Linked DNA regions of Homo sapiens. The protein of the gene in region 2 purifies or fractionates together with the protein of the main gene of each other region. This does not show direct contact. Each region holds a gene or a part of one and is shown on either strand. Other genes may lie near its edges.

The links.
Region 1: the proteins of MTMR8 (region 2) and TXNDC5 purify together in Homo sapiens (affinity purification with mass spectrometry, with the first as the bait; one large-scale study listed by BioGRID). This does not show direct contact.
Region 3: the proteins of MTMR8 (region 2) and SOAT1 purify together in Homo sapiens (affinity purification with mass spectrometry, with the first as the bait; one large-scale study listed by BioGRID). This does not show direct contact.

What each region holds. Positions count from the first base shown.
Region 1 is NC_000006.12:7,890,252-7,893,906, forward strand, and holds part of TXNDC5 (thioredoxin domain-containing protein 5 isoform 1 precursor), read right to left. Parts: intron 1,486-3,655; coding exon 1,370-1,485; intron 1-1,369. UniProt on the Homo sapiens protein: Protein disulfide isomerase of the endoplasmic reticulum lumen involved in the formation of disulfide bonds in proteins. Can reduce insulin disulfide bonds.
Region 2 is NC_000023.11:64,353,910-64,357,564, forward strand, and holds part of MTMR8 (phosphatidylinositol-3,5-bisphosphate 3-phosphatase MTMR8), read right to left. Parts: intron 2,430-3,655; coding exon 2,267-2,429; intron 1,026-2,266; coding exon 868-1,025; intron 1-867. UniProt on the Homo sapiens protein: Lipid phosphatase that specifically dephosphorylates the D-3 position of phosphatidylinositol 3-phosphate and phosphatidylinositol 3,5-bisphosphate, generating phosphatidylinositol and phosphatidylinositol 5-phosphate.
Region 3 is NC_000001.11:179,349,191-179,352,845, reverse strand, and holds part of SOAT1 (sterol O-acyltransferase 1), read right to left. Parts: intron 2,551-3,655; coding exon 2,415-2,550; intron 1,530-2,414; coding exon 1,384-1,529; intron 1-1,383.

The DNA.
Region 1 (3,655 bases), on a different chromosome or scaffold from region 2:
CAGCACTAAAATAGGCAGGACTAAGTTGTTATTCACTATGTCAGCAAACGGGGGTAAAAATACTATTTCAACACCTAAGACCCGTCAGAGAGCAGCTAAGGTGCGGAACTGAAGTACAAGAGGCCTCAGCCCAAGGTCGGGAGAGGACAAGCATTTTTAAGGGTCCAGTGTAACCCAGCCACATGTGCCAGGGATGAAGGGCTTCAGCGTGGTCACCTGGGCTTGTGTCTGCTCACGCCTAGGTCTGCTAGGATCCTCTATGGATATAAACCTAAAAGAATCTCCCATAAAATTTCATACAATAATTAAGTAAGGATACAAGGAATGGGGTAAGACAGTAGACAAGATTATTTTATAATTACTTCCCCGAAATGTTCAATAAATATAAACTGATAATAACATGTATAATTAGTATATATTATCGTAAGCGTTTAAGAGGCAACAGTGAAATATCCATTTAACTGACAACAAAAGTGATTACAATTTACCAAGCATCTGCCCCATGCTAAGCATCACACTAAGCAGTGTACTTTCATCTGCCCAGACACCACACAGTAGATCTTAGCTCAGTTTTGCAAAGGGGGAGACCGAGGCGTGGAGAGGTTTTTCCCAAGGTCAGCCAGCCAGGTCTACCCAACCCCCAAGTTTATGCTTTTGACCATCTCACCATCCCAAGTAGATCATCCTGTTAACCATCATTCAGTCCTAGACACGCAGCATTACTTTTGGATACAAATCAGCCCCATGGCAAGGTAGAAAAATGAGATTTTTAAGAAAGGAAATCTATGCATGGTGTCTGGTGGGTGCTGGAAAGTGTAGAAGAATAAAAGTGATGTCCCTGGAGCTACACTGGATATTTCCAGAAAATCCAGTTACACAGAAGTTGTCAGACACCACTCTTGGCTTCTCTGTATAAAGTAGGAAATGCTGGAAAGAATCCCAGGCACAGTGCAAACTGAGGGAGGGTCTTCTGCGTGCTTGGGGGAGCACAGAGCCAGGGTCCTTTTAGAGAGAGCTCTTGGGTGAGGTCGAACGTGGACGGTCTCCAAGTTCGTCCAGTGAACATTCTACAAGGCTCTACCCCATCTCTTTGCAGAACGGGCTCTGGGGCTGCCAATTCAGATTTGGCCATCTCTTCAAAATAAACAAAGCAGCCGAGGCCATAATTTATCTCTAGGCTGTGGAAAAGCCAGCAAAACTCAAAATCAGACTGCCATCTGTGAAGGTGAAATGAATTATCAAGTGGCACACTAAATGGAATTAATAAATCAAGTTTGCGACTTTGCACACGGAATGAATAATGGGCCACTCTGCTAATTAATCCAGCCCAAAGCAGTCCATTTCCAGTTTAATAAGGGCTTTCACTCACCTTGCCAATCTTGACAGTTTCGGAATGTTCAAGGCCCAGAGCCAGCTGCTCCCAGGTTGGAGCCAGGGCTTTGCAGTGACCACACCACGGAGCGAAGAACTTGATAAAGTGGTCGCCTGGAGTGGAGAGCCAAGGCAGAGACGGGGGAAAGAGGAACTGTAATTTATGTCAGACCTCACTAGAGAGTTAATTGAAGAATCAGATCTTTGTCCTGCTTAGCAAATCTTAGTTCGGCATGAGCACTTTAATTGGTACAAAGGGACTCCATCAAATGTGTTTCTGTTCATGACTTCATAACAATACTCAAAACCAAATTTGTCATCTTTGATGGACAATCAGCAATCAACTCATTATTTGGAAAACTGTAATAAAAGGAAAGAATCAGGCATTTCTCCCACCTCTCCTATATGCACTGTACCGCTGAATAACCAGGTGATAAATGAGGGTGAGTTTCTCTTGGTTAAAAAATGAAGGGACGCTTGAATGAGCCTCGGCACTTGGCAGCCCTAAGGAATGGACGGACCCAGGCTCTGCCTGTCATGGTCGACCACATCCCAAAGAGAGACAACTGGACGTTCTGTGCCCCCACCAGCTATGAGGTCTTCTTGTGCCCCCAAAAAACATCACACTGAAACTGATTTTGTCCCCAGACCCAACTACCAATTTCCAGGAAACAGAGAAATCAGGGAAACATGTAGACCACACTACGGGGACACAATTAGCAAAGTCTGGACCACGGGGAGCTCTACAGGTCAAACCACCTATGTCTTCAGCAAGAAAGATAAAGAGATGTCTGGAGAACATGCAGGTTAAAAGAGCCTTAAAAGATATATAAACACATACACATATAGAACTATAGTGCTCAGGAATGTGCACTTCAGTGCACATAAAGGAGTTGATATGGTTTGGCTGTGTCCCCACCCAAATCTCATCTTGAATTCCCACATGTCGTGGGAGGGACCAGGTAGGAGGTAACTGAGTCACGGGGACAGGTCTTTCCCATGCTGGTCTCGTGATAGTGAATAAGTCTCATGAGATCTGATGGTTTTAAAAACGGGAGTTTCCCTACACAAGCTCTTTTTGCCTGCTGATATCCATATAAGATGTGACTTGCTCCTCCTTGCCTTCCACCATGATTGTGAGGCTTCGCCAGCCACGTGGAACTGTGAGTTCTCCATTAAACCTCTTTCCTTTGTAAATTGCCCAGTCTCGGGTGTGTATTCATCAGCAGTGAAAACGGACTAATACAAGTGGTTTCCACAAATGTCAGGCAAGTGCCTTCTTGGAGAAGGGAGGGCGGGCTGTGCCCTGCATGGGACACGGGAAGCTGGCAGTTTTATTTCTTGAACTGGACAGTAGTTACAGTGTGACCACGCTATAAAAATTCATTAAGCCCTACATTTGTTTTCTCGATCTGTATTATATTTTATCATAAAAAAAAGTTTAAAAAATGAAACATCACCCCCTTGGCTACGGGGAAAAAAACAAACAAACCCTCACAGCATCATTATTTGGACACAGAAGGTGTTTAGCTGTTCTACCCTGACATTGGGCTGATACCAAACTGAAAGCAGGCTGTGGCCGGGGAGAGAACTAACCAGTGGCATGTGGCCTGGCGTCTGAGCAGGACTCTGCCACACTAAGGCTCACAGCTACTGTCTCATCAGCACAGCAACAATGCACTTGAAGAAAATGGTGAAAAACTTCCTTTAAAAGTTAACAACTTCCATTAAAAAATGTGCAAAGCTGAAACCATGTGCAGGTGCACAGTAGATCCTGCACTGTAAGGTGGAGACAGGCTCTCTGGGAACCTAATCAGAGTACTGATGGGAAGCCAGCAAGGGCAGGAAGCCACCATGGTACCTACACGACACAGCTGTGTGGCAGTGACCCACTTAGGGAGGCGCTGGCTAGGCCTGCCGGAGTCGGTCTGTCCTGCCGGAGTCGGTCCGTAACAGGTGATTTGGGAAACACACCCTGCTCAGAGCCCAAGACAATCCCAGCTGAAAATGCATTCCCGTAGCGGAAAGCATGCTAGAGTTCTGCCGTCAGGGCGCTGGTATGGATGAAATAACTTTTAGCAAAAGTGGGAAAAGGCTGAAGGCCTCACGATAAGTTACTGTGGACAGTAAGTGTGGTGGGGGAGGGGCTCTGACTCCCAGCAGGCACAAGTCACAAGGCCAGAGGCAATCCAAGCCATTTCTCACGTTTCCAACCCAGTCTTCTAAGGGGATTTCTCTCCATGGTAGCATTTGGTAATGGGAGCCGGCCAGGAAGCCAAAATTG
Region 2 (3,655 bases):
GAGTGAGGCCTTGTCTCAAAAAGAAAGAAAAGAAAACTGTGGTACATATGCACAATAGAATATAACTCAGTCACAAAAAAATGTAATCCTGTCATTTGCAACAACATGGATGGAACTGGGGGACATTATATTAAGTGAAATGAACAAAGCATAGAAAGACAAATATTGCATAATCTCATTCACATGTTGTAGGAGCAAAAAAAAAAAAAAAATGAACTCATGGAGACAGAGAGTAGAATGATGGTTACCAAAGGTTGGTAAGGGTAGTGGAGTGGGGGGGATAAAAAGAGGATCCTCAACGGGTACAAAAATACAGTTAGATAGAAGGAATAAGATCTAGTATTCAGTAGCAAAACAGGACGACTACAGATAACAATAATAAAATAACTGAAAATGGAATTGGAATGTTCCTAACACAAATAAATGATAAATACTTGTGGTGATGGATACCCCAATTACCCTGATCTGATCATTACATATTGTATGCCTGTATAAAAATATCACATGTACCCTATAAATATGTACAACTATTATATATCCATAATAATTAAAAATAAAAAATGTTAAAATAAATTAGCCTTCACAAGGCTACTCTGCAAAGCATCAGGTTGTTTCTGGCTTCCTTAGGCTGATTTTCATGCCCTGCACCTATGCTCCCATAACACCCTATGCTTTAGGCCATGAGATCTCTTACTCAGTGCCTATTGCACTGTAGGTACTCAATAAATGTCTGTTGAATGGCTGAATGTTGAATGGAAAGGAGAGAGAGATTATGAGTCATTTCTCTCTTTTTTCAAAATCTTGTTTCCTGATATTCTACCATCTTAATTAAATGCACCAAAAGGCAAACAACAAGGACAAAATTACCTCATAGTTTCTGTTGGCATCTGTTATGGTCCAGTTTCTGTTGGGTATTCCCATACGCCCAAAGTCTGATATTGGGTCAATCAGTTTCCATCCACTTTCCCTCATCTCTTTTGAGGATTTGGGATTATAAGAAAAAGCATAAAGATCTTCAGGTAATGCTGGAGAAGAGAGATAGGCATGGAAAACAAAATGATGAATGAAACCTAAAAATCATCAAACAATGCAAATAAAGGCTAGATTTCCTTTTCCTAAGGGAATGTTTGTCAAACAGCCCCAGAAAAGGACTGTGGTGTGTGCAAGTTTGCCTTTATGTAAGGAATAAAAACTGGAATATTGTTTGGGTTCTTTGAAAAAATGTTTTAATTTTTTGTGTTATCAATACGAAGTGGGATCTTTCTGCCTGGCTTCCTATAAAAAAAGAATGCTGGATAATTGACTGAACTGAGGCTTCAGGGTTTCACATGTTAAGAAAAGAGTCCTTACCAAAAGTTTTTAACTGGGCTCCCATGTCCTAATAGTACTGCTTATTGTAACATGTTGCACATCTTTAACAATGTTTTTGCATTGTACTTGTCAGACCAACAGCAACTTCTGACTTATAAATGGCCCCTTCCTCTCTTTTCTCTGTCAGTCCTGCTTCCTCCCTTCACGAGATACAGCATCCAATCAAATAACTCATTTGACCAATTTATATGGCAACAACTTCTCCAGAGATTAATGGAGCCTATCAGAGACTTGTAAAATGCTAGGCCATCCAGCAGGTAACTTTATCAATAAAAATCAGCAAATATTGAGGAATTACTCTGAGGGAAAAGGGGAAAAATGGGAGAGAAAATGTAAGAGCATGATTAAAATCAAAGACTAAAATCAGAGGAAGCTGGTTAATTGCCTAGGGGTGGGGGCTGGGGAATGAAAGGGTGATGCTGGAGGAAGCATTAAGTCCTACATTAATGAGGACTTTGATGAACTGCCTTAGTCTTCTAGTTGGAATTAAAAGTAGGGGTGGAAATCGTGGGCCAAACAAAAAGTCTGCAGGACAGCAGGAAACAAATTTTCTTCCAAAGCAGTCTTCCTTCCTGAACTGAGAAAACATTCACAAGTTGATACTTTAAAGGAGGGAAGGAGAGAGAAGAAAATATCTATTAAACATCTACTATATACTAATACATGAAGGTATTCAAGGCTCAAAACAATCCCCTTGAAGAGCTTTTACTCTCCTTACTTTTACAGGTAAAGAAAATGAGTTCAGAGGTTATATAACTTGCCCAAATATAATGGAGCTAATAAGTGGTACAGCCCAGATCCAAACCCTCCTCTGACTCCATAGCCCTGATCTTTCCATTATGCCATTTTGGAAAAATATTAAAATGGTTTTAGATAAAAATACTATCATAACTACCTGGCTGAGAAAGCTTGAGCAGTGAAATATAAACCTCATGGCACACAAGGTCAGAATCTAAAACAAAGTGGGCCACCCGGAAATTCTTGCAGCGGAGGGTCAGGGGACAACCCAGGCTAGTGATGGGTAACTTCTCCACAGTGGCAATGTGATGGAGTGCAATCTGAAAAACATAAAAGAACCAGCGTAAACATACAGATGTGCAATATCTCTATCACTATCAGTATTCCTGACTCTCCGTAATGGTAACAGCATGACCAGATCTGTAGGCTACATCTACAGCCTACAACCATTCTTTGTAAGACACAACTGGGGTTCTCTCAAATAGAACTAAAGCATAATAGTGGTAAAGCAACAAGAAGCAGACTGCAGTGTTAGAAAACTTCTCTCTCCTTAAGGATACGAGATTACCAAGTTTGTGGGACAATTTTGGTAGATCAGCTCAGAATAGATGACTTTTAGCATGCTGTGATAGAGTTCACAATCAGAATAATTGTTACAGAGGAAAACAGGAATTTTTTTTCTTATATCAAATTACTAATTAAGATAATTATTAATAGCAGGTATTGTGCCTTATCATAAACAAAGTAGTCCATGACCATTAGCTATTTAAGAAGAGCCATTTGACGTGTAATCATCCTATTTCAGGAATGAAAAAAAAACAAAGCTCTGAGAAGTGAATTCCTCATCAGATATCATATAGCCAAGAAGTGGCACAAACAGAATTTGAACCATAGCAGTCTAAACTTAAGTCCAGGATTAAGTTCTGGAATAAGGATTTAACTAGAAATGTTAGGGAGGAACTATTCCTCTACATTTTAAACTCTAGTGACAGTAAAGCAAAGAATGTAGGATGATTACTTCTGTTCATGCTGATGCCAGCAAAAAAAGAAATGCATGGAAAGGGAACTGATGAAACAAAATGTGTCCAAATAATATAATTCTCTCTTAATTGATTCAAAAAGCCATATAATCATGGTTTTGCATTTTGATCTTTGATGTTCTCCTCCTATCCCTGTCTTATGTTTCTGCAACTATGGAGCCTGGATGTGCTCTTTCCATTCTCTAGACTCCCTGTCCTGTGCCTGGAATGGTCTTCCAATCAATAGTGCCTTTTCTGCTCTCCCATCACCTCAATGCCCCAGTCCCTAATTTCTTTGGAAAAGTCATCTCTTCAATGAAGTCTTTCAATCATATCCACCATCTAAGAATGGAGCAAGTGTGGAAATGATTCAGATATTCCTAGGATAAATTTTCTATTTTTTTTAAGGCAGGGTCTCGCTCTGTTGCCTAGGCTAGAGTGCAGTGGCTTAATCATGACTCACTGCAGCCTCAACCTCCTGGGTTCAAAGGAGATCATCTTGCCTCAGCCTCCTGAGTAAGCTAGGA
Region 3 (3,655 bases), on a different chromosome or scaffold from region 2:
ACAAAGGAGATTAATATGAAATAAAGAGGGAGAGTTGAGGCAGCCTAACAGACATAGGGTACACAGAAAGAGGGGAAGCTTTGGAGAGGAAACTGATTAATTTCATTATGGACATCTTCAGTTACAGATGCCTATGAGAAATACCCAGGAAATAAATCAAGAAGGTATCCCCTCCAAACCTGGAAGGTTGTAGGGATTGAATGAATTATTAGTAGGGCCACCAAATTTAGCAAATACAAGTACAGGATGCCGAGATGAACTTGAGACAAATAGCTCTATCTGCCATATTTTTTGTAATTTACTGAAAAAAGCAGAATATAGGACATTTGGGGTGTTCTAAGAAACCCAATACAGGAGGCAGGACAAAAATGTTAAATATAGGACACGCCCTATATGCACAAAAAGCCTGGCAATCCTACTTCTTAGGGTGTTTCCATCATGAAATTCTATCCATAACTATAAGCAGTACTTTCAGCTAGTGCTAGTAGATCTAATTAACCAGATCACATCAATTAAATTAACCAGAGTGTTTGCTGGGAAATTCCTATGTCCTATACTGTGTTACTTGAAAATAAAATTCTTAAAAAAAAAAAAAGCCATCCTCCTAAAATCTGTACCCATGTATAGCTAAAAACTAAAGTCCTAAGAATAAATGAAACCTGAATTACCAAAAACAAAAATAGAATCAAGAGAAATGGAAGGATCTCAGTGTTGCCCAATATTTTTACAAGAGTTTATTTAGAAGAAAGAGGTTTAAAAAAAAAAAAAGGTATGTTTTAGGTGGTGGTAGTAGGGACATACATGGCATTAGGAAAACCCTGGAGAATACTTAGAAGGGGCTGGCTGAGCACGGTGGCTCCAGCACTCTGGGAGGCCGAGGTGGGCGGATCATGAGGTCAGGAGATCAAGACCATCCTGGCTAACATGGTGAAACCCCATCTCTACTAAAAATACAAAAATTTAGCGGGCATGGTGGCATGCTCCTGCAATCCCAGCTACTCGGGAGGCTGAGGAAGGAGAATCACTTGAATCCGGGAGGCAGAGGTTGCAGTGAGCTGAGATTGCACCACTGCACTCCAGCCTGGGCGACAGAGTGAGACTCTGTCTCAAAAAAAAAAAAAAAATTAGAAGGGGCTGAAGAAAAGGCAGTAAAAGAAGAAAACCAAAAGCTAGGAGAGTTAAATGTGAAGAAAACTAAACAAAAGGAAAAACTTCAAGTACAATAAGATCAGATGATAAACTAATGCTTTTACTCCTCATTTCCCTCTCTTTAACACTAATTCATCATAATCTCCACTACTGTGCTCCTCAACATTGCCCACCAACTCTCACAAACAGAGAATAAACAGGTTCTTTTGCACTCCAACCAGGTTGGTGACTCACATTTTTCAGAGGACAGTGCTGACGTGCATACCATTCTTGAGAATAAAAGCAGAGTAAGACTCCATTGCCCAAGAAAAGAGAAGTCCACATCAGAACATTCCAAATCGGCTTTTTCCGACTATCATTGACAATGAAGTTGAAAGCCACTAAAAATAGGAAGGCAACAAAGAAATATACAGTTATCAGAGGTCAGAAGTTCGAGACCAGCCTGGCCAACATGGTGAAACCCCATCTCTATTAAAAATACAAAAATTAGCCAGGCGTGGTGGTGTGTGCCTGTAATCCCAGCCACTCGGGAGGCTGAGGCAGGAGAATCACTTGAAGCAGGGAGGCAGAGGTTGCAGTGAGCTGAGATCATACCACTGCTCTCCAGCCTGGGTCACAGGAGTGAAACTCTGTCTCAAAAAAAAAAAAAAAAAAAAAAAAAAAAAAAAAAAAAAAGAAAGAAATATACAGGTATCAAAACATAATTTATCAGAAGATGAGGGACCTCAGGTATCTGCTGTTATTTAATAATCACAGTGAGCAACAACTGTTTATATATTTTTTTATTCTGGTCACTGTTTCTATAAAGAAAAATAAAGCTTCAGTGTTAAAATCAGTAACTTACAAGAAATCAGTGTTTTCAGAACATGTGTATATATATTTCATGGAATTAGAATATTCATATTCCAACTTTTCCCTCTCTACTCACTCAAAAACTTGTCAGTTTTCTAGGGGGTGCATACCGACAATGTTTACGAATGGGAAAGCTGTTTATATAGATAACTTTTATGACCTATCAAATCAGTGTTATCAATGGTCTTCATGAGGTTACCTAGTTCATTTCCCTACTTCAAAGTGTAAATATCTTGAGACAGAGCTGTGTATAATTATTCAAAGTCAATATTCTGACCATCTGATAAAGAAGTACTACCTTAAAATGTTACTACTACTATCTAGTTCTCCTACATTGATTTTATAGTTTCCTTTCTATCTGGTTTTCTTTTTTAGCATAGTACCCAGTACTCACAGCATACCAAGATACTTACTTCCAAAGAACATGAAGAGCACGAAGAGCACGGGATAGAAAAAGCTCAAGCAAACAGCCAAGGCATATTCGTGTACTACAGCAGATACAGCAAAGACAGCTAACATGGCAGCAGATTTGAATCTCTTGGAGAAAAACTAAAGAAAAAGGAAAACACTACAAAGTAATTTTTAAAAATTTAAAGCAAGCATGGATTATATAGGATGTAAAATTATATGCCAAAGGCACCTATTGTATTTGTACTTAATTTTCTAAGTCTACTCCTTGGATTAATCCAAGTCTATTAAAATAACTACAAATCATATACACTTACAAACTCTTATTATTGTTCAAATATCTGAGTCTATTTTCAAAAATATCAATAACTTATGTTTGTAAGTTATTACAACTGACAAAACATAGTTTTCCTATATAAATGAAACATATTGAATTTCAGTCTTTAGAGTAACACTGTATGGTAGATGGGGCAACTGTCCTCTCCATTTTTACACATAACAAAACTAAGATTTCAGAAGGAGAAAAGGGACTTGCCTTATCCGTATGTGAAACTACACTTGAATGACAGAATTAGCACTCAAATATTAATACAATGCTATTTCCACCATAAGATGCTGTCACTAAGCCAAATGGTGCCCTCACTTAATAAAAACTGTAATCTAGATACCTGTTTATCAACCAGGAGATTCAAGATTACATCTCATCAGTCTAAGTATATTCTGCTCTAAAGAATGTCTCAAAGCCAGGTGTCACTGATTGGAGAGATACAAAATCCACACAAAAGTGTTTCTCACAGAAAAGTGTTTCTCACCCGGGCACGGTGGCTCATGCTTGTAATCCCAGCACTTTGGGAGGCTGAGGCGGGCGGATCACCTAAGGTCGGGAGTTCAAGATGAGCCTGACCAACATGGAGAAACACCATCTCTACTAAAAATAGAAAATTAGCTGGGCGTGGTGGTGCATGCCTGTAATCCCAGCTACTTGGGAGGCTGAGGCAGGAGAATCGCTTGAACCCGGGAGGAGGAGGTTGCAGTGAGCCGACAACATGCCACTGCACTCCAGCCTGGGCAACAAGAGCGAAACTCTCTCAAAAAAAAAAAAAAAAAGTGTTTCTCTACCTTTAACCATGAAAAACGAATGAAAAAGACCAAAGGGAGATTATTTGTTGGCAACAAGACTCATAAGAAACTATCCATTATTGGTGGATCATTTCAACTCCAACAACCTCCATGCATTCTTACTTTG